6 linked regions of the Homo sapiens genome follow. The protein of the gene in region 6 purifies or fractionates together with the protein of the main gene of each other region. This does not show direct contact. Each region holds a gene or a part of one and is shown on either strand. Other genes may lie near its edges.

What was found.
Region 1: the proteins of PLAC9 (region 6) and ABHD12 purify together in Homo sapiens (affinity purification with mass spectrometry; one large-scale study listed by BioGRID and IntAct). This does not show direct contact.
Region 2: the proteins of PLAC9 (region 6) and MPZL1 purify together in Homo sapiens (affinity purification with mass spectrometry; one large-scale study listed by BioGRID and IntAct). This does not show direct contact.
Region 3: the proteins of PLAC9 (region 6) and TENM3 purify together in Homo sapiens (affinity purification with mass spectrometry; one large-scale study listed by BioGRID and IntAct). This does not show direct contact.
Region 4: the proteins of PLAC9 (region 6) and EMILIN2 purify together in Homo sapiens (affinity purification with mass spectrometry; one large-scale study listed by BioGRID and IntAct). This does not show direct contact.
Region 5: the proteins of PLAC9 (region 6) and GDPD1 purify together in Homo sapiens (affinity purification with mass spectrometry; one large-scale study listed by BioGRID and IntAct). This does not show direct contact.

Annotation. Positions count from the first base shown.
Region 1 is NC_000020.11:25,380,836-25,384,335, forward strand, and holds part of ABHD12 (lysophosphatidylserine lipase ABHD12), read right to left. Parts: intron 1-3,500.
Region 2 is NC_000001.11:167,790,201-167,792,419, reverse strand, and holds the end of MPZL1 (myelin protein zero-like protein 1 isoform a precursor), read right to left. Parts: 3' UTR 501-2,219; downstream 1-500. UniProt on the Homo sapiens protein: Cell surface receptor, which is involved in signal transduction processes. Recruits PTPN11/SHP-2 to the cell membrane and is a putative substrate of PTPN11/SHP-2.
Region 3 is NC_000004.12:182,246,402-182,249,901, reverse strand, and holds part of TENM3 (teneurin-3), read right to left. Parts: intron 1-3,500.
Region 4 is NC_000018.10:2,892,006-2,895,505, reverse strand, and holds part of EMILIN2 (EMILIN-2 precursor), read right to left. Parts: coding exon 3,020-3,500; intron 1-3,019. UniProt on the Homo sapiens protein: May be responsible for anchoring smooth muscle cells to elastic fibers, and may be involved not only in the formation of the elastic fiber, but also in the processes that regulate vessel assembly. Has cell adhesive capacity.
Region 5 is NC_000017.11:59,269,011-59,272,510, reverse strand, and holds part of GDPD1 (lysophospholipase D GDPD1), read right to left. Parts: intron 1,576-3,500; coding exon 1,516-1,575; intron 1-1,515. UniProt on the Homo sapiens protein: Hydrolyzes lysoglycerophospholipids to produce lysophosphatidic acid (LPA) and the corresponding amines. Shows a preference for 1-O-alkyl-sn-glycero-3-phosphocholine (lyso-PAF), lysophosphatidylethanolamine (lyso-PE) and lysophosphatidylcholine (lyso-PC).
Region 6 is NC_000010.11:80,131,346-80,135,529, forward strand, and holds the start of PLAC9 (placenta-specific protein 9 isoform 1 precursor), read left to right. Parts: upstream 1-1,384; 5' UTR 1,385-1,417; coding exon 1,418-1,481; intron 1,482-4,184.

The sequences.
Region 1 (3,500 bases), on a different chromosome or scaffold from region 6:
CTATCCCCTATCCACCTGGATGTTTAACAGGCACCTCAATATGTCCAAAACCAAACATTACTTCTCCTGCCCCAAAGCACTTGCTCTTTCCACATCTGTCCCCATCTCAGTATCTGGCAACTCCATTCTTCCTGTTGCTCAGAAAGTAGTTTGTGAATCCAGAATCACATGCCTCTTCTTATCTCCACAGCTGCTGTCCCGGCCTGAGCCCCTGTCATCTCTTGCCTGGATGACCCTGGCAGCCCCTAGCCGGTCTCCCTGCTTGCCCACCGCAGTCTGTGCTTGTCACACAGTCAGAGTGACATGATGACACACACCATGCCATTTCTCTAGCAGCCAGTGGCATCCATTCACATGTCTCCTTGTCAGAAACATCCCCTGTACACCCAGACTGTGCACACACAGCCACAGGGCCTCATCTGCGGCTATTCCCTCACTGGCACCATTTTCCTCCTTAGTGCCCTAAGCACATGACATCATGTGTTTCTTCATGTTTTATCTGCCTCCCCTACCAGAATGTAAAGGCCAGGAGAACTGCAACGGCCTCAGCATTCACAGGTGTTACTGGGCGTAACAGGTACTCAAACTGTTAAATGAGTGGCTGGAAAAAAGTGTTAAATAAGCAAATAGTATTGCTACAAATGCTCTAATACCAACAGACACATTAACTGATCAGGATGGACCCTATATGCACGACTGGCTGAGAAGCCAGACTCTTAATTGTTTGGGGCAGAAAAGGGTAGAAGAAAATCCTTCTAGACATGAGCTAACAGATCTTTCTCAGTACCCTCTTTTTTTTTTTTTTTCCTTGTTTTGTTTTTGAGACAAAGTCTCGCTCTGTCACCCAAGCTGGAGTGCAGTGGTGCAATCTCGGCTCACTGCAGCCTCCACCTCCTGGGTTCAAGCGATTCTCCTGCCTCAGCCTCCCAGGATTACAGGAGATAATCCCTCACCTGGGATTACAGGTGCTCACAACCTCACCTGGCTAATTTTTGTCTTTTTAGTAGAGATGGTGTTTCACCACGTTGGCCAGGCTGGTCCTGAACTCCTGAACTCAAGTGATCTGCCTGCCTCGGCCTCCCAAAGTGCTGGGATTACAGGCATGAGCCACCACACTGGCCAGTACCCTGAGCTCTTAATATTATAATCATCATGGGGCTAGTCATCTAGAAGATGTCACTGACCAAGCACTCACCATGTGCCAGGAACATTCCACACACCTGGGCCTCACCACAATCCTACAGGGAAGACACTCTTATCCCTACATCACAGATGAAGAAACAAACTCAGAGTGTTACACAACTCACCCAAGCCAGAGAATCTGAAAACTCACCTGAGACCTGGGTCTCTATGAAGGCTATCCTCTGAAGCAGTAAATCACAATACAAAGGGGCTGAGGCCTAAATGAGAAGTCTTGCTGGTAATGGGACAGTTTGGTTCCGGCATCCTGGCTCTTGGCCCCTGTTCACTGACTGACACTCTAGACGCTGGCTCTCGGTGTGGCACGAGATAGATGGCTTACCCACTCTCATGCTGAAAGGGCCCCTGCCAAAGCACAAGCACACTGAGACCAAAGTCCTGTGGCGTCATCTCTGGGTGAAGAGCATTGACTTCATCTGTCAGCTTTTGAGGTTATATTTCAATAAACATTTTCCCTGCAGATTTCACTCTGGAAGGACAAGTGTTCTAATGGAAGAGGAGAGAAAGGAGGGGAACGAAGAGGAGGAGAAGTTGCAGCAGCGGGAGTCTGAAATGAGGTCCTGTCTCCATCGCTGTTAGCACAAACCTGACAAGATGACCCATCTTCCATGCCTCTCTCCAAGGCTTCCTCCATGAAAGTGCCTCAGGTGCTTTCAGCCTGCCCAAAGATACCCCTCACAGTTCAGGCCTGTCTGCCAAAGTCACCATAGAAGGCGGACACTCCCTTGGGAAGGGTCACTGTGGCTGAAAGGAACTAGGAACCAAGCAGAGATACAGGATGCAGAGTCCTAATAAAGCAGAAGGCAGTGGCAAAGCACCAAGTCCCAGTGTGGCCAGTCCCTGGCTGGAGTGCAGCATTGATAAGGTACACTGAGTTAGGAAGAGGAAAACCAGTACCAGTTGAGGGGGGGGGCCAGCTATGGCGCCATAAACAAAGCCAGCCCCATGCCTTGTCACAGTCCTGGCCCAGACTGTACTGAGGGTGGAGCAAAAGGAAAAAGGAGATGGATGAAGCAGACTTTAACCACAAAAGCTAGCTCAGAACTCGCTCCCATCTTCCTAATCTGTAAAGAAAAGATGAAGAGATACCATACAGGGACACTTAGAGGGTGAGGTTGATACTGAACCTCGGGAAGGCTGACACTGAAGAAGACAGATGTTAACCTCAGCCACCCACTCTTCTGGGTTAGGGGGAAGCCATTAGCAACCTTGGATAAAGTATCTTCTTTGGGTAAAGGAAGAAATAGGTGTGATGACTATGTTCTTTGGCATTTACGTATGAGGGTGATCTGGCTATGAAACCTCCCATGCAGCCCACTGATCTCTGTCAATCCAGCAGATCTGGCCTGTCGGTTGGGAGTTGGAGGATAAAGACTAGGTAACACACAGACCGTGTACATCTCATGACTGCCTTCTCAGGGTCCAAATTAGACCAGTCATGCCTTCAATGCACATTCCCAACAATTCCAGGGCTAATGAAAGGCCCACAAAATCCCTCATTTGGGCTGGGCGCGGTGGCTCACGCCTGTAATCCCAGCACTTTGGGAAGCCGAGGCAGGCGGATCACAAGGTCAGGAGTTCAAGACCAGCCTGGCCAATATGGTGAAACCCCGTCTCTACTAAAAATATAAAAATTAAGGCCGGGCACAGTGGCTCACCCCTGTAATCCCAGTACTTTGGGAGGCCAAGGTGGGCGGATCATGAGGTCAGGAGTTCAAGATCAGCCTGACCAACATGGTGAAACCTCGTCCCTACTAAAAATACAAAAAATTAGCCAGGTATGGTGGCGTGCACCTGTAATCCCAGCTACTCGGGAGGTTGAGGCGGGAGAATCACTTGAACCTGGCACACGGAGGTTGCAGTGAGCCGAGATCACGCCACTGCCCTCCAGCCTGGGCAACAGAGGGAGACTCTTTCTCAAAAAAAAAAAAAAAAAAAAGAAAAAAAAGAAAAAAAATTAGCCGGGCATGGTGGCGGGCGCCCATAGTCCCAGCTACTCAGGAGGCTGAGGCAGGAGAATCGCTTGAATCTGGGAGGCAGAGGTTGCAGTGAGCCGAGATCACGCCACTGCACTCCAGCCTGGGTGACAGAGTGAGACTCTGTCTCAAAAAAAAAAAAAAGAAAAAAAAAAATCACTCATTTGCCCAGTACCTCCTCACACCAGATACCATGCAAAGCAAAACTGATCTAGTTCCTCGTCTCAAGGAGTACAGAGTTGACCTATGAATGAGATAAATATTTACCTTTAAAAATTATCTTTTGGCCCAGAATTTAAAAACAAAAAAAACTGGTTTGGGGTT
Region 2 (2,219 bases), on a different chromosome or scaffold from region 6:
AGGATGAAGTCAGTGGTTCCCCAGTCCAGTTAGCACAGGAACTACCCAGAGGGGTCAGAAGGGAGCCAACTGGGGTGAGAGAGTATCTGAGTTTCCTCTAAACACTGCTCAACTCAGCTCCCTCAGGGGTGGAAGCTGCTCTCATAAATAAAAAGTCCATCTTTGGTTGGCAAGGCCCCTATGTAGCTTGGAAACCAGAGCCCCAGCAGGTGGATGCCCTCCGACACTTAGTGCTGACTTGGAAGGAATTGCAGAGATGACAAAAATGTGATTCCATCACTCACTGCTGCCCTTGTGTGGTGAAGGAAGCATCCCTTTTCTTTTTGTCACATCACGCAAGATGGATGCTGTTCACATGTGAGAATTACTCCCAGGGGAGTTCCTGCCAGCTGTAACTCATCTTCTCCCACTCAAGAACGCATTAGGTTTTGCAAGCCCAAAGTTATGCAAGGCAGGGGCTCATTGTGAATCCATGGTAATTTATAAAATTACTAAGTCACTGCGAAGCCTCAATGTTTTATTAGTAACACATTATTTGTAACATAGTTCTCAACAAATTAAGTCACCACATTGTCTTCCAGACTGAGGTTAAAGCTCTCAGACATCTGTGCCTACCACCTAGACTACACTACCCTCTCAAGTTCCTAAGGGACTCTCTAACCAGCTCCTAAGGGACTGGGAGAAAACTGCAACTGCATTTCAGCACATTTATTTGAGTAAGGAAGCAGTTTGGTACTTCCTTTTGGTGTGAGAGGCCACAGGGCATAGTGGTTAGGAACAAGGCTGTGGATCAAACAGCGGCCCCAGGCCCAGCCCCTCTTCTCTGTTCCTTTATTAGCTAAGTGGCCCTGGGTAAGCCATATAATCTTTCAAACAATGGGATTAAGATTAGTACAATTACTGTTAACTCACAGAAATAATAGAGAAAGAAATGCAAAGTGCCTGGCTCACACCAAGTATTTGGTAACTACTAGTTACTTCCATTCATGTCACCTGTCACCTCCACCCTGTGGCAAGCTCCTTGAGGAGCTTTGTCTTGTTTTGTTTCCTTATGCTTAGCACAGTGCTTGGCACAGGATTGTTCTCAGTGTAGGTTGCTGAATGGATGAATGCTTCCACCTACTCATCCATCCACGTAACATGTATTGAGCAGCTAAGTGCCAGGTGCTGTTCCCTTTACTGCAGACGGAGCAGTGAACAAAACAGCAAGGTTCTGGTCTCTTGTTAACTATGTTCTAATGCGGGAGAACAGACAAGTGTGTACTGGGAAAGAGGGAGAGAAATAGAGTAACTAGAGCAGAACTGAGGGGGCCAGGAAGGCTGAGGCGGTGGGGTGGGGGGCTTGCTCTTTTATATATCACAGAAGGTCTCCCTGAGGAGGTAACATTTGAGCAGAGGCTTAAAGGAAGTCAGAGAGCAAACCACAGGAATATTGGCAGAAGGCATGCTTCAGGCCCAGGGAACAGCATGTGCAAAGGCCCAGAAGCAGGCACACGGACGGCATTTTTGAAGAAAAGAAGGCAGGTGTAGCTGGAATGATATGAGTGAAAGGCATATCTCTTTTTCTATTCTGGTCAAAATGAGCACACAACACAATTCAGAAATTGAAAAAGATGTATTAAAATATTCACAAAAATACAACTGAAGATCAAAAAATAATAATGAGCTTGATGGTTTTTCCCTAGCTGATATATTTCCATTGAAAAACTAGAGATAGTTTGAAATTTCAATCTCTAAGTAATGCCTTTTGAGTGCTCCCATACAGAATTAGCGCATAATTTTAAGACGACCCTGTTTGCCAGGACGAAGACATGGAGAGGGCAGATCTGCCCTTTAGGCAACCTTAGTTCGTTATCTGCAACCAGGAAAGGAGTGCTGAGGCACAGGGAAAAGGGGAGCCAAAAGGGCTGCAGGGGTGGGTGTGCAGGGCTTGGGAAGAGGTCCTGCCCTGAGAGGCTCATCTCAGTGTGAGCAGCTTCCTTCAGGGAAACCTGTCCTGGCAGAGCACCATGCTGGCAGCTGCCCTTGCCTGGGGGGAAGGTTGGTGAGAACTGGTGAGGATTCTCTGCCAGAATGCCAGGGCACTGACAGAGTTTGAGGTGTCTGGTTGGGCAGGAGGCCAAGAAGTCGGGCTGGGGAAGGGAGTGGTAAGGGAGGAACAGGCCTCCAGGTGTCATTCGAGTGAGTGGCCCCCACAGCACCAGCTTCACCAACACATG
Region 3 (3,500 bases), on a different chromosome or scaffold from region 6:
AGTCTCAGCTACTCGGGAGGCTGGGTGGAGGATCCCTTGAGCTCAGGCGTGTGAGGCTACAATCAGCTATGACTGAACCACTGCACTCCAGCCTGGGTGACACAGCAAAACCTAGTCTCTAAAAAAACTAAATAAATAAAAAATAAAAACCACTAACTAAGAATATTTATATAAAAACATCACAATTGCTCAAAATATTTGCAACCCCTCTCTATCAGACCCATCCTCAGAGGTCCCCAACCCCCACCACCACCACTTAGTGCCCTCACTGTGGGGGGACGTACATTTCCCACCCCATTCGTTGTATGATTTGCTTTGGCCAAGAAGATGTGAGAGGAAGCGGTTCAGTCTACGATGGAGCAGAAGATTTTAAGAGCCAGTGCATGGTCCACCATTGTGTTTTCCTGCTGTGAGAGCAGAATATGTGAGATAATAGTTTCTCCTTCTAGTACGAAAACAGCATGGAGTACAGCCACTATCAACTCATATAACTCACAAAATATGTAAAAAAATAGACCTTTGTTGTAAGTCATAGATTTGGGGATTATTTGTTATCACAGCTTAACTCAGCAAAAGCTTACTAATCATTTTAACAATGTCATTGCTTGGAGGTAGGCAGCTGCAGTGCATTCAGAAAAGCACTGGCCCTGAAATCGGAAAACCTAAATTCCACTTCCATCTGGCTGCGCGACCCAGGTAACTCATGACCACATGACTCCCATTTCCACAGCTGGTGGTGTGGGTGATAGCATGTCCTCTACCACTTATTAGCTATGCAGCTCTGGCCAAGGAATTTAATCTGTCTGTGTCTTAATTTCTTCATCTGCAAAATCGGAATAAAACTATACACCTCACAGGGTTGTTCTGAAAATTCACAAGTTAAAACATATAAAGTTTGTAGAGGAGGGTCTGGCACATAGTAAACACTCAATACATGTTTATTATGTTATTGTCCTATTGCTATTACTATTGCACCTTTTTCATAGGTTTTAGAGGCCTAAAGGTGTTTGGGGAAGTGCTCTGTAAACTATAAAGTGCTCTGTAGATATATATGGTTATAAAGAACTTTCCACATCTCATTTGCAACCCTTTGGTAGTTATGAGGAACTCGGTAACAGCAGGGTTTTTGTCAGGTTTACTGTGGTATCCCAGGCCTTCAAATATGAGCTGGCACGTAGTAGGCATGTAATTATTTGTTGAATGAATGAAGGAAAATCGTGGTCTCCTTTGTAATCCACTCAATGCAGATGCTATTTTAAAATTACATTGTTACTGACTGAATCTCCGCCAGTTCCATAAATCAAAGCTTCATATACGCAAGCTTATTTCAGGTACTGAGTATATTTAACCATCTACTTAAATTACCCAACTTACTAGATCTATGTTAAACAAAAATACCACATGTCATCACTTTTCAGCAGAGATCAGAATAATTGGTACTACACATTAGAAGAATCACCTCAAATTAAAGAATGTACAATAATGCCTTTGATCACTGTACAATAGAGTACATGTCAACATTTTTTATACTCTGAATGATGAAAATGGTCTAAGAATTTCCATTTTTTTTCTTTGACAATAAGGCTAAGACTATTGATATACTTTTTTAGTGACACTTTATTTTTATTTAAAATTTTTTTTATTATACTGTAAGTTCTGGGATGTATGTGCAGAACGTGCAGGTTTGTTACACAGGTATGCGTGTGCCGTGGTGGTTTGCTGCACCCAGGCACTTTATATTTTAAAAGCAAATTTTAACTGAAATATAGTGAATAAAATAATGAAATGTATTTCATATATGCTTGCTTAAAAGCCTAAAGGCAATTATAAGTGATGTATTTCAGATCAACTTTCAAAACTGCATATTTGAAGTCCAAATTATCTGAAAATCCCCCATTAAATAAAGTTAAATAATATTTTCTATGTCACTGACAAACAGCAATGGCACTATTGTACTTCATGGCTTAGGAAACACAGAAGAGTTTGCGTGGGGAGCTTTGCAGGGAAAGGGTGAGGGTGCATTTGCTAGAGTTTGGGAAGTTATTTTTAAGACTTCTCACCAATGTTCACAGTTCTTTATTTTTCCCAATAAAATTTTGTTAAGTATTGAAAATAATTCTGCTTTTACTCATATCACAGAATTATAAAATCCTAGAATTAGGTATAATCTGAGAGGTTGCCTGAGCCATCCTTGGTCCAGTTGCTACTGCGATTTACTTATTTGTCATTTCAGTAAACACTGACTGAGCATCCACCCGCAGGTACTTGCCAGAGATATAACATGGACAGAAAACAAAGTCACTGGCCTGAAAAATCTTAAAATCTAGTAAATTAAAGCTGTCCTTGCCTAACAACACTTTGTGACTAGAAACTAACAGCGCAGCTTTGTGAAGCTGCTCGTTCCATTTTTGGATGGATGAGGTCAAGGGTTAAAGTGCTTCCTTCTAAGGCGGGTGAGTTCTGCCTTAGCCATGGCCCCTTTCAATGGTCTGAGGGCCACTCTATGGAACCATCATCTGTGTAATGCTTCCAGTAGATCACATCTCAAATAATCAGACATTTATCATGGCTCTCTCTCCAGTCTTCTCTTCGTAAGACAACCAACCCCCAGTTCCGACTGCGCTCTTCATAGGGTTTTTCTTCCAAACTCCTCACCATTCTGGTATCCACCTCTATATGTCAATTTCTTGCTGCAGCACCTCAGGACTGATCAGCACACAGAGAAACACATTGCCTTCCCTTTCCAAAATCACATCTAACTCGTTTCTCTTTGCTCATTAGATTCTAGCTCGACTCATATTTTTCTGTCCTTCAAAAACACCATTTCTGGTGTTCTTCGCATCTTTACATTTGCCCATCTCTGCGTCCTCCCACAGCTGCCCACACGGCTGGTTCCGTCTCATCCTGAGAGCTTCGATGTGGGCATCGCCTCCGCAGAGAGGCATCCCTCGTGATCCACCTCAATCAACTTCCCCTCCACTCCCAGTCACTACCTCATCTCTCGTTTTAGTCTCAGTTTAACAGCGATGATTATCGGAACTTATCTTCTTTGTTTAGTTATTTACTGGCGGCTTCCTCCCTAGAAAGTGAGTTCATCCCTGCACTGCTGTCGTCTGCAATAATGCAAGGCAAAGCGAAGGACGAGAGGGAGGGAACGCCCCCGCCCTGGAACCTACATGGCATGATTCATATCTCTCTATTTCTTATGAATACAGTCAAGACGGCACAAGCTTTTCTGGCAGACATAGCCCATTTGTTTAAGGTCAATAAAACCGTGTCTTTGTCACATACGGACGAGACACATTCTTACGTGATGGGATCGTGCTGCAGAATTTTAGAAGGAGGGCTGGTTTGCTGGATTCAAACTACTACTCCGGCTCTATTTTTAGTCTCTTATCCAACACCACCTCCTTCCTGTCAACAATGGCTTTGATACCCACACCATCTATATCCTAGAAAAGGAAGACATTTCTACCTCCTGTGCTCTTTCAGAGCGGGGC
Region 4 (3,500 bases), on a different chromosome or scaffold from region 6:
GCCGGGGTTCCTGACCTACAGAATAATGGAAACTAATACATCTTTGTTGTTTTAAGCCAGCAAGATTTGGAATGGGTTGTTATAAAGCAATAAATAGCTAATCCACAATGTCCTCCCCTCCTGCTTTCTGAATCCCACCCATCCCTCAATCAGATCCAGTAACACCTCCTCCTGGAAGCTTCTCTCATCTCACCTTATTCCTCACCCCATCAGCCTCTGTACTCTGCTCGGTAAATACCTACACTGAGGGCTCAGCTCAGGGCTCTCTCCTGAGAATCCCTCCCTGACTTCCACTGTGGGTGCTTCTCTGAACACTCAAGGTGGCTCATGCACACCACACCCCATTCCTGTGACCATCTGTCTGCTTGTTTCCCCATCAGACTTTTATCCACATACTCCCCCACACAGCCATTACCTACCACATAATAGGGGCTCAGTAAGAGCTTATGAACTAAAGGGATAAACTGCTATGCCACAAACAATCTCATTCATCTCTCTGCAGACCTGTGAGTCTCTTTCCCACTGTGATTGCAAATGCTTTAGAATAAGGATTATGCCTACTTATCTCCAGGTCCCCCAAGAGCCTTGCACATCGTAGGCACTCAATAAACATTCTGTTGACTTTTAACTGATTGACATGTCACTTTCATTGTGACCTTAGCTCCAGATTCTCCCATGCACCTCTGATACTCAGGTTCCAGGTCTCCTAGACCTGGATGCTAGACAAGGGCAGAGGAGGCTCTGCTTGTTTATTTCTGGCTCTTTTCCAATCAATGAAATTCTCAAAACTCCATGCAGTCTACACTCACCACAATGAGTTCAGTCCAAAGGGATAATGTTTTGTATGGCACATTCTCTTTTAAAAGAATTCACCCCCCAACTCCTACTGCAACAGACAAATGCGAAAATGTTAACACAGCTTCCCACGCCACCAGGGAGTTCCAAATCAACTGGAAATATCTGATTCAACCTGTTATCGTAAGACACAGACCAGACAGCGTTGTCACCACAAGGGACAATCATTCTATGAACACATACATGGTCTTGTGACCTCTACTCAACATTCCAGAGATAGAGGAGCTGAGTGGCCCTGGAGTGGGGGAAGGGCTGGGTTATAAATAGTGAGGTGCAGTGGGCTGGACACTCGGGTGGCGGCCAGATTCCTGGTCCTCCTGGGCCTAGGTGACTCGTCATCTGCAAGATAAGCACAGTGCTCTGGGGACATCCAGGGCATTTTCCCACCTACCTCGGACCCTCTCCACCCTCCTGAGCTGCCAGGACCTGGCCCTGGCTCTCCCTGACCAAGCCAGAGCTCGCCTGCTTCCCACGTTCTAGCCTACGCTGCCTTGGGTTTTATGTCTCATCTGGGACTTGATCATAAAATCCCAAGGTTCACAGAGGCCATGAAATCTCAGTTCCTTGTGCAAGGGCCTGTGTCACCCAGAGCGGAACCAGGTCAGGGAGGTAAAAGTCCCAAAGGCAAGGATGGGAGAAAAGAAAACAGGGAGGGGGAGGTCAGGAATAGGTTCCTTCTAGCACAAAGCAGGCCCCTCAACAAGTCCCCATGGACCAAGTAAGTCTGCACTCAGTTCTGGGAGACACACAGTCATCATGGCTGGACTGCAAGAAAACAATTCTTGGACGCAGCCTGGCCTGGTTTCCATCCTGGCTCCCCCACTGAACAGCCACATGACTTTGGGCACATTTTCCCTGTTGGAAAACAGCCTTTCTGTGAGGCCATGATAGGATTCAGTCCCCCTGAAGTGACCAAGCCAGTGCTGTACATAGAAAGTGTTCAAAAACGCGAGCTCCCTCTTCCTTCCTTTCACGCCCAGACTCCGACTAGAGAGGGCTAGCTTATGTCGGAGGCTGTCTCAGAGTACAAACCCAGGTACAAGAGAAGCTCTGTCCTTTGAGAAGGCTGCGTTTAGCACCCACAAGTAACAAAAAAATCTTATTACATATATTATTCATTCATTCACATTCATTCATTCAACAAACATTTGTTGAGTGCCTAAGGTGTAGCCAGCATTGCTCTCAGCACTACTGCTGAGCTTCCTGGATGCAGGCACTATGGAGCTTTAGATACTTCCTGTCCCTAAACTGCTCTCATCCACGGTCCTGTGTCTGGAAACAAATATGACAGCATCCTATCTGCCATCAGCTAAGCCCTGAAGATGATAACGACACAGATAAAAAGTGATGCTTGAAGAGAGGTACGTAGGAGACTCCCTAGGTAGAAGAGAGGACAACACCCACTGCCCCAAGCTGTTATGCCAAAAATCTGACCCCAACTCTGAGCTCACCAGCCTGATTCTACAGATAATATTTGGCTATCCATCTGTGGGAAGAACCAGTTTTCCTTTTTTATTTTCAATGTGTTGTGAACTGATATTTTTGTAAATTACGTAGATCATGTGCTTAAATACTGCAATGTTGTTTGTTTATTTATTTGAGATGGAGCCTCACTCTGTTGCCCAGGCTGGAGTGCAGTGATGCAATCTCGGCTCACCTTAACCTCTGCCTCCCAGGTTCAAGCAATTCTCCCACCTCAGCCTCCCGACTAGCTGGGACTACAGGCGCGTGCCACCACACCCAGCTAATTTTTGTATTTTTAGTAGGGACGGATTTTCGCCATGTTGGCCAGGTTGATCTCGAATGCCTGACCTCAGGTGATCCACCCTCCTTTGACTCCCAGAGTGCTGGGATTACAGGCATGAGCCACTGCAACCAGTCTGTCAAATTATTTTAGAAGTTCCTAAATATTAACACTGAGAATATATATTTATCTTATTGCTACTCAGCACCAGATAATTCAGGCACCAATCTATGAACCACATTTGGGTAGGACTGATGGCATTTAGTTCATTCCGTGAACTGTCCAAAATCTAGCATAATACTGTCACATTTTTACCTCATGAAGTTTCAACAATATCAAAAATGAACAAAAAATTATTTTTAAAATGTTGTTGCGTGCTGCAAAGAAATACAAGAAATAGAATTGTAATATTCAACTTACTTGCTGATGGCTGAAATTTGACCAGATCTTGCAAATCAGTAGAAATCTGGAAGACGTGGCTGTAGAACTGCTGGACTGAATTCTTCAGGCCAGAAATGTCTCTGGAATGCGACCTGAGCGTTCCGTTCATCTGCCTGACACAGTTCCACAGGCTGCTGACATGCTTGTTGAGCCCCTCCTTGATCCTCTGAAGATTTCCTGAGATAGAGTCCAGCTTGCTGCAAGTTTTCTCCATATGAGACACCCTGCCCTCCACCATGGAGACCTCCCTCTGGACCCCCTGCGTGCATTCCTTACAAGCATCCAGCTCCGAGATGACCTGGCTCTGCAACCTCTGCCACCTCTCCTCCAGCTGACTGCAGCAATGAGCCACGGGGTGCTGGGGGGACGGCAGGGTGTCCACTGTCCTTTCTTGCTCACCCACCTTAGTGAACCTACCCATGCCAGCGTTTTCACCTGCTCTACAATTGCTCATTTCCTT
Region 5 (3,500 bases), on a different chromosome or scaffold from region 6:
TGGAAAAGAGGCTGCCTCATTTTCACTGCTGAAGAAGGAGAAAGAGCTGGCTTTCCTTTCTTACTATTAATGTGTGTTCCTAACTTTCCAAGTTAAAATAAGTCAACAAATGCAGGTCAATTTCTATAACATCATAGTTCATTACACAATGGATTAGTCTTTTGTAAGCGATGTTAGAAGCATTATGTCCATTAATTACACTATCCTATGTCTAGGGAAAAAATATTTTTTTGTTCCAAGTAACTCACTGATAAGTGAACTTTCAAAATACAAACCTCTTGAGCAAGATAGGAATTCATTGCACTGGAAAGACATTATTTCTATTCTGTTATGTCTATTAGAATGATTAAATAACAGAAACTAGAAATCATGTGCTTTTAACACCAATTAACAATGCATCTTGTCAGTTAATAGGGTTGAAAAAAGAAAAAAAATGCATCCTGGTTTTACTTGAGTACAAAAAAAAGGCATCCTTGAAAACTAGAGCTTAAATCAAGAATAAAGCAAAAAAGAATAAACACTGACAGAGAGAAAAGATAAAACTAATTGTTTAAGACTCTTTGAAAAAGGCGTTAAGGCTGGGCGCGGTGGCTCACACCTGTAATCCCAGCACTTTGGGAGGCTGAGGTGGGCAGATCACATGAGGCCAGGAGTTCGAGATCAGCCTGGCCAACATGATGAAACCTCATCTCTACTAAAAAATACAAAAACTAACCAGGCATGGTGGGAGGCACCTATAGTTCCAGCTACTCGGGAGGCTGAGGCAGAAGAATCACTTGAACCCAGGAAGCGGTGAGCCGAGATCACACCACTGCACTCCAGCCTGGGCGACAGAGAAAGACTCCATCTCAAAAAATGAATAAATAAATAAATAAAATAAAATAAAATAAAATAAAATAAAATAAGAAGAAAAGGCGTTAAATAATAAAAAGTTGTGATTTGGGACTATTAAAATATTTAAGCATTCAAGGTTCCATCTTAAAGCAAAATATAGTACAATTATTTAGTGATTTTTACTAAAATTAAACTCATCATGTCTAAATTAAGGCATTTACTTTAAAGTTGATATCCACTCTATAGGTGGGATTTCCTTTCTGCTGTTAAGTCTTGGTGCAGAGCAAATTTTTCTGAGAAATGTGCTGTAGGCAACATACACTTTTATATATACTGTGTTGCTACACTTCTTTTCACCAGCAAGTAAGCTAAAGGGAATGGTTATTTAACCTAGTTCTGCTACTAACTAGCTAGATAACCCCAAGTAAATAATTTAACTGGGTATATGGGGGCTCAGTTTTCTCATGAAGTTGGAGGACATTATCTCTCAAGATTCTTCCTAAGATTTTGTGATTAGTAATTAAGATATTTCTAAATGATTCATACACATTTTACATAGCAGGTGCTCAATTTGTCCTTGTTACAAATTACATGTGGAAAGCTTGCACAACATTTTAAGGGTAGTATTTAATAAATATAGCTGAAGCAATAACTTGCATATTAAGAAATTAAAATTCTTACAGATCAGAAAGCCAGATGAGAAACTTTTGACTTCTGGACATGGTGTGTGGTTCTTTTAGCCTAGGGTAAAATAAAGTTTGAATTACAAATTAGAAACACAGAAATATATCAGTGTGATAAAATGAAACAAATTCAAAAATGAAAACAGTGCCTTGTACTTTGTATATTCTCAAAAAATATTTGTAAAAAGGACAAAAATAAAATAAAGGCCAGTTGGGTTCTGTTTGCACTGGTCTCAAGCTAACTTTTTGCCATCCCTATTCAAAAGTAATAAATAAATAAATAAATAAATAAATGCATACATAAATAAATAAATATTGTCTTTCCAGAGACCCTGGTGCCCTAGGCTCATATCTCGTTTCTTTTTTGGTGAAATCTTTCTCCTGCTTTGTCTCCTACAATTTAGTATGTGGCAAATTTAAACATACAACGGAACTGTATTATAGATCAAAGTGAGCAGTTTACCACGTGTTTTCCTTTCCTTTAAAATATCTGTAGGCCAGGCATGGTGGCTCATGTCTGTAATCCCAGCACTTTGGGAGGCTGAGGCTGGTGCATCACCTGAGTTCAGAAGTTCCAGACCAGCCTGGCCAACATAGTGAAACCCCCCCCCGTCTCTACTAAAAACATAAAAATTAGCCGGGCATGGTGGCGCACACCTGTAATCACAGCTACTCAGGAGCCGGAGACAGGAGAACTGCTTGAACCCAGGAGGCAGAGGTTGCAGTGAGCCAAGACTGCGCCACTGCACTCCAGCCTGGGTGACAAAGTAAAACTCTGTCTCAAAAAAAAAAAAAAGTACAAAATAAAGTACAAGTCCTTTTTTCCCTAACTCTGGCCCCAGTGGAAAGTCCTGGTTGCAATTTCAGGAATATTAGGGATTTAGTAGCTCAAATACTGATTACCTCATTAAACAATCACTATATTGTCTTAGAAAATATCCATTGTCTTCTATAGAAGTATTAAAACACACAAAATATATCCTGCTTGTGTCTTAATCCATAATCACTTTTTAGAGAAAATATTAATTCTGTGGAGTTTGTTCTTATGTCTGTATTTCAACAATATTTGCTTCTAAAAGGAACATATGAAGATAAATATAGAGCAAACAGTCCACTCCAGGCCAGAGGAAAGCTAAGTACTTTAGGAATAAATGTTTTATTTATTTATTTATTGGCAGAGTCTTGCTCTGTCACCCAGGCTGGAGTGCAATGGCGCTATCTCGGCTCACTGCAACCCCCACCTTCTGGGTTCAAGCGATTCTCCTGCCTCAGCCTCCTGAGTAGCTGGGATTACAGATGTGCGCCACCATGCCCAGCTAATTTTGTATTTTTAGTAGAGATGGGAGTTTCACCATGTTGGCCAGGCTGGTATGGAACTCCCGACCTCAGGTGATCCGCCTGCCTCTGCCTCCCAAAGTGCTGAGATTACAGGCAGGAGCCCCTGGCCCAGCCAGGAATAAATGTTTAGGGATCATTTTAATCTAGCAAATAAAATAGGGTGTTTTTTGGGGGGGGGGGTAGACAAGAAGCGTTTTCTATTGTTTTGTCTGAGAAACAGCTACAAAGATGTTCATAAATATAATTTAGGAATAAATAAAATAAACATGTTTATCACTAAGATACTGAAATTGGAAAACAGGCATGAAATAGAAGTTGAGCACAAGAGTACTGACTAAATTGTTTTTCTTTTCTTTTCTTTTTTGAGACAGAGTCTTGCTCTGTCGCCCAGGCTAGAGTGCAGCCATCTCGACTCACTGCAACCTCCACCTCTGGGGTTCAAGCGACTCTCTTGCCTCAGCCTCCCGAGTAACTGAGATTACAGGTGTCTGCCACTGTGCCCGGCTAATTTTTGTATTTTTAGTAGAGACGGGGTTTCACCATGTTGGCTAGGCTGGTGTTGAACTCCTGACTTTGTGATCCACCCGCCTCAGCCTCCCACAGTGCTGGGATTACAGGCATGAGCCACCACGCCCGGCCAATTGT
Region 6 (4,184 bases):
CTCTGTATACTTAATTACTTTATGCTCTACCGCAACAATAATGTATTGTATATGTTTTTGTGTGTGTGTGTGTTTTCTTAGTCTTAAATTCAAAATATAAGGTAGCCCACTGGCTCTAAGCTACAAGAATCCTTATGAGTTGGGCAGTTCTTTGACAACTTTTTTTCCCACCTGGCGAAACTATCAAGGAATGTCCTACCACCAAGCGTGAGAAATTTTTGGCATTCCTGAAATAAATTCTTCTTCTGAGCCAGCTCATGTGGGCATCATAATCTCCTTGAAGGCTTTTAAAAGATTTAGATCTGAGTCTGTCTCAGATTCTCGGGCTCAGAACCAGAATTTCTCCGTCTGAGGCTACTATCTTGCTCTGGAGGAGGGAGTGAGAACTGGATCACTGGTTAGCGTGGTAACTGTTTTGGACAATTGCATAGCCACAGCCAGGAACACAGAAGGCAGAGAGGCAGCCTTGATCTGCAAGAGCTCCAGGTAATCCCAACGGGGACCCTTGATGGACAAAGGCATTCTCCCAGGCTTGGTGATGAATGTGTTCCACTTACAGCCAGACGAGACACTCACTCAGGGCTCTGCAGCAGAGAAGTTAGAGCTACAGCTTTTTTGCTTTGTGTTTTTACTAAAACTTAATTTGTTGTTGCACTTGTTGGATGGGCATGTCCCATAGGGGAAGTTTCCACTACTGTGCTCTAAACTTTGGGCTGCTTGTACCATCTTACTTATCCCCTCATTAATAATGAATTGAATAAAATCTTTAGTATATGCTAATTTCATATCTTTGCGAGAGTTACGATTTTACCTTTTCTTTTTAAAATTACCTTTTCATATTTCTATCACTCCCTTACCAGAGCAGTGAGTTTCTGGGTCTCCCTCTTAGGGGCAGACACTGTTCCATGTAATTAGAATTAATTTCTTGTTCGTAGGTAGACAGAGAAAAGCTGCCAAACTCCCAGGAGACAGGGGTTCAGATCCTGTGCTATGGCTGAGAGTGATGCCGAGGAAGACACTTCCCTCCGAGTCTTAGTCTGCCCGCCTGTGAAACTGGCTCGTAACAAACCCCTGACCCCAGGCTCGGTCGCCTTGAGCCCAAGACCTCACCCAATGCCCCCCGCCCCGCCTTCCCTCCCGGGCTCCCAGGAGGTGCGGGGACTCGGGGGGCGGCCCCTTCCTCGGGAGGCGCCCAGGTGGCACGTCGGTGCCTCAGCTCCCGGGGTCTCTGGGCTCCGCGCTGCCCACGGGGTGCCGAGGGGCCTCTGGAGGGGGCGGGTTCTCTCGAGCCAGAAAGTCCGGAGCCGCCCAGGAATTTTGGCTCGAACTGAGTGCATTTCCTCTCGGGCCGGCCGGGTGCGATCCGGGAAGGGCGGCTGCGGGCAGACGCGGCGCTGCGCTCGGCCAGGCCGGCACCATGCGGCCCCTGCTCTGCGCGCTGACCGGACTGGCCCTGCTCCGCGCCGCGGGCTCTTTGGCCGGTGAGTGGGGCGCAGGGCGCGGCAGGGGACCTGGAGCCGGGGAGACCCGCAGATGGCGAGGAAGGAATGAGCGAGAGAGACGGAGAGAGAGCTGGACACAGCAGCGAGATGGACAGAGAGGCAGATGCAGGGAGGGAGGGATGGAGAGAAAGATTGAGAGGAAACAGACTCAGAAAAAGGCAGAGAAGTAGAGCAACGGAGAGATAAAGGAGATAGGGAAGAATACACAGTGAAAAGGAAAAAGGAGAGGCTGAGACAGAAAGAGGCTTCCCCTGAACAGATATGAACTAAGATAGAAAGAAAAAGGAGTTTGAGAGACAAAAGAGAAGAAGGAAAGAGAAAAAGTGATTAAAATGGCAAGGGGTGGAGGGAGAGAGGATATTGAAGAAAAGAGAAAGATTTGAGAGAGACCAAAAAGGAGAGAGAGGGAAGCTCGATGCCCGGAGTAGAGCTGGCAAGAGAGAAGGAGCCAGGATCTGGAGTGGGAGGTCACAGCTGCTGGGTGGGGCAGCCCCGGAGGCCAGCTCCATCTCAGAGGGCCTGTGGAGGCTCAGGCCTGGCTTTATAGGACATTGCATAAGAAGCCACACTCCAAAGGATGAGTGACCCAGGCTAGCCCAGCACAGCCTTAAGGAACCAGGCAGTCGGGCCCAGGAGAAAGGCCACCGATTCACCTGCCAGGTGGCCTCAGGTGGATCTGCAGTCAGTGAAGAAGTCAGCCTCCCGGTTTCCAGGGAGCTTCTCTGGGAAACTGAGCTATGTTGGGTGGAGATGGGGGACTGGGTGGAGGTGGAGAGCTGTGCGGAGGAGAGAGGCTGTCTGGGTACTCCATTAGCTGGGTTCCTTGCTTTTCACTGTCCGCTTTCTTCCCCTCACCTACCCCTCAGGCGGGCGGATCACAAGCTCAGGAGATCAAGACCAGCCTCGCTAACATGGTGAAATGCTGTCTCTATTAAAAATACAAAAAATTAATCGGGCGTGGTGGCACATGCCTGTAGTCCCAGCTACTCGGCAGGCTGAGGCAGGAGAATCACTTGAACCTGGGAGGCGGAGGTTGCAGTGAGCCGAGATCAAGCCACCGCAATCCAGCCTGGGTGACAGAGCAAGACTCAGTTTCAAAAAAAAAAAAAAAAGAAGAAGGAAAGGAGGAAAGTATTCATGTATTAGTGTAATTTCACACTGATTTCATATATTTTTGTGCATAATCTTTCAGATTTTAGATGATATATCTTAACTTTTGATTATGAAAACTTTTGGATACAAAAAAATACAAAGTAATAGTATGTGAAAGAATCATGTAATATACTTATCAACGCTGCTTCAAGAAGTATCAGTTCATGGGCAGTTTTATCTCATCTATAGCCTCCACCCTCTCTCCCCTCCCTGGATTATTTTAAAGGAAATCCAGGCATTGTATATTTTCTTTCTTTCTTTCTTTCTTTTTTTTTTTTTTTTGAGACAGGATTTCATTCTGTCACCCATGCTAGAATGCAGTGGCACAATCTCAGCTCACTGCAACCTCCGTCTCCCGGGTTCAACTGATTCTCCTGCCTCAGCCTCCTGAGTAGCTGGGACTACAGGCACGCACCACCACACCTGACTAATTTTGGTATTTTTAGTAGAGATAGGGTTTCACCATGTTGGCCAGGCTGGTCTCGAACTCCTGGGCTCAAGTGATCCACCTGCCTTGGCCTCCCAAAGTGCTGGGATTACAGGTGTGAGCCACAATGCCTGGCCTGGCATCATGTATTTTCATCTATAAATATTTCTTTGTGTACCTCTAAGAGATAAGCACTCTTAATAAACATAACTGCAATGCTATGATCATACTCCAAAAACTGTGTGTGATTGAATATCATTAAATATTCAATCACTGTTCAAATGTCCTTGATTGATTGTGTCATATCTTTTTGCAATTCATTTGTTTGATCCAAATAAGGTTACATACACTGCATTTGGTCAATATGTCTGTTAGATCTCTTTAAATATGTAAGTCTTCTCTCCCCTTTTTTTACTTAATTTTTTGTTTTTGTTGAAGAAACTAAGTTTGTCCTGTAAAGTTTTCCACATTTAGATTTTGCTAATTGCATCCCTTTTATGTCATTTAAATACCTCCACCCCTTATATTTTCTATAAATTGAGAGCTATCTCTAGCACGTCCAACTTCCAACCTTGGTTTGTTTGTTTGTTTATTTATTTATTTATTTATTTGAGATGGAGTCTCGCTCTGTCTCCCAGGCTGGAGTGCAGTGGTGCGATCTCCGCTCACTGCAAGCTCCGCCTCCCGGGTTCACACCATTCTCCTGCCTCAGCCTCCCAAGCAGCTGGGACTACGGACGGCTGCAACCATGCCCGGCTAAATTTTTTTTGTATTTTTAGTAGACATGAGGTTTCACTGTGTTAGCCAGGATGGTCTCGATCTCCTGACCTTGTGATTTGCCCGCCTCGGCCTCCCAAAGTGCTGGGATTACAGGTGTGAGCCACTGCGCCCGGCCTTTTTTTTTTTTTTTTTTTTTTGAGACAGAGTCTTGTTTTGTCATCCAGGCTGGAGTGCAGTGGTGCGATCTCAGCTCATCACAACCTCTGCCTCCTGGGTTCAAGCAATTCTCGTGCCTCAGTCTCCCAAGTAGCTGGGATTACAGGTGTGCACCACCACACCCAGCTAATTTTTGCATTTTTTAGTAGAGACGGGGGCTGCGGGGG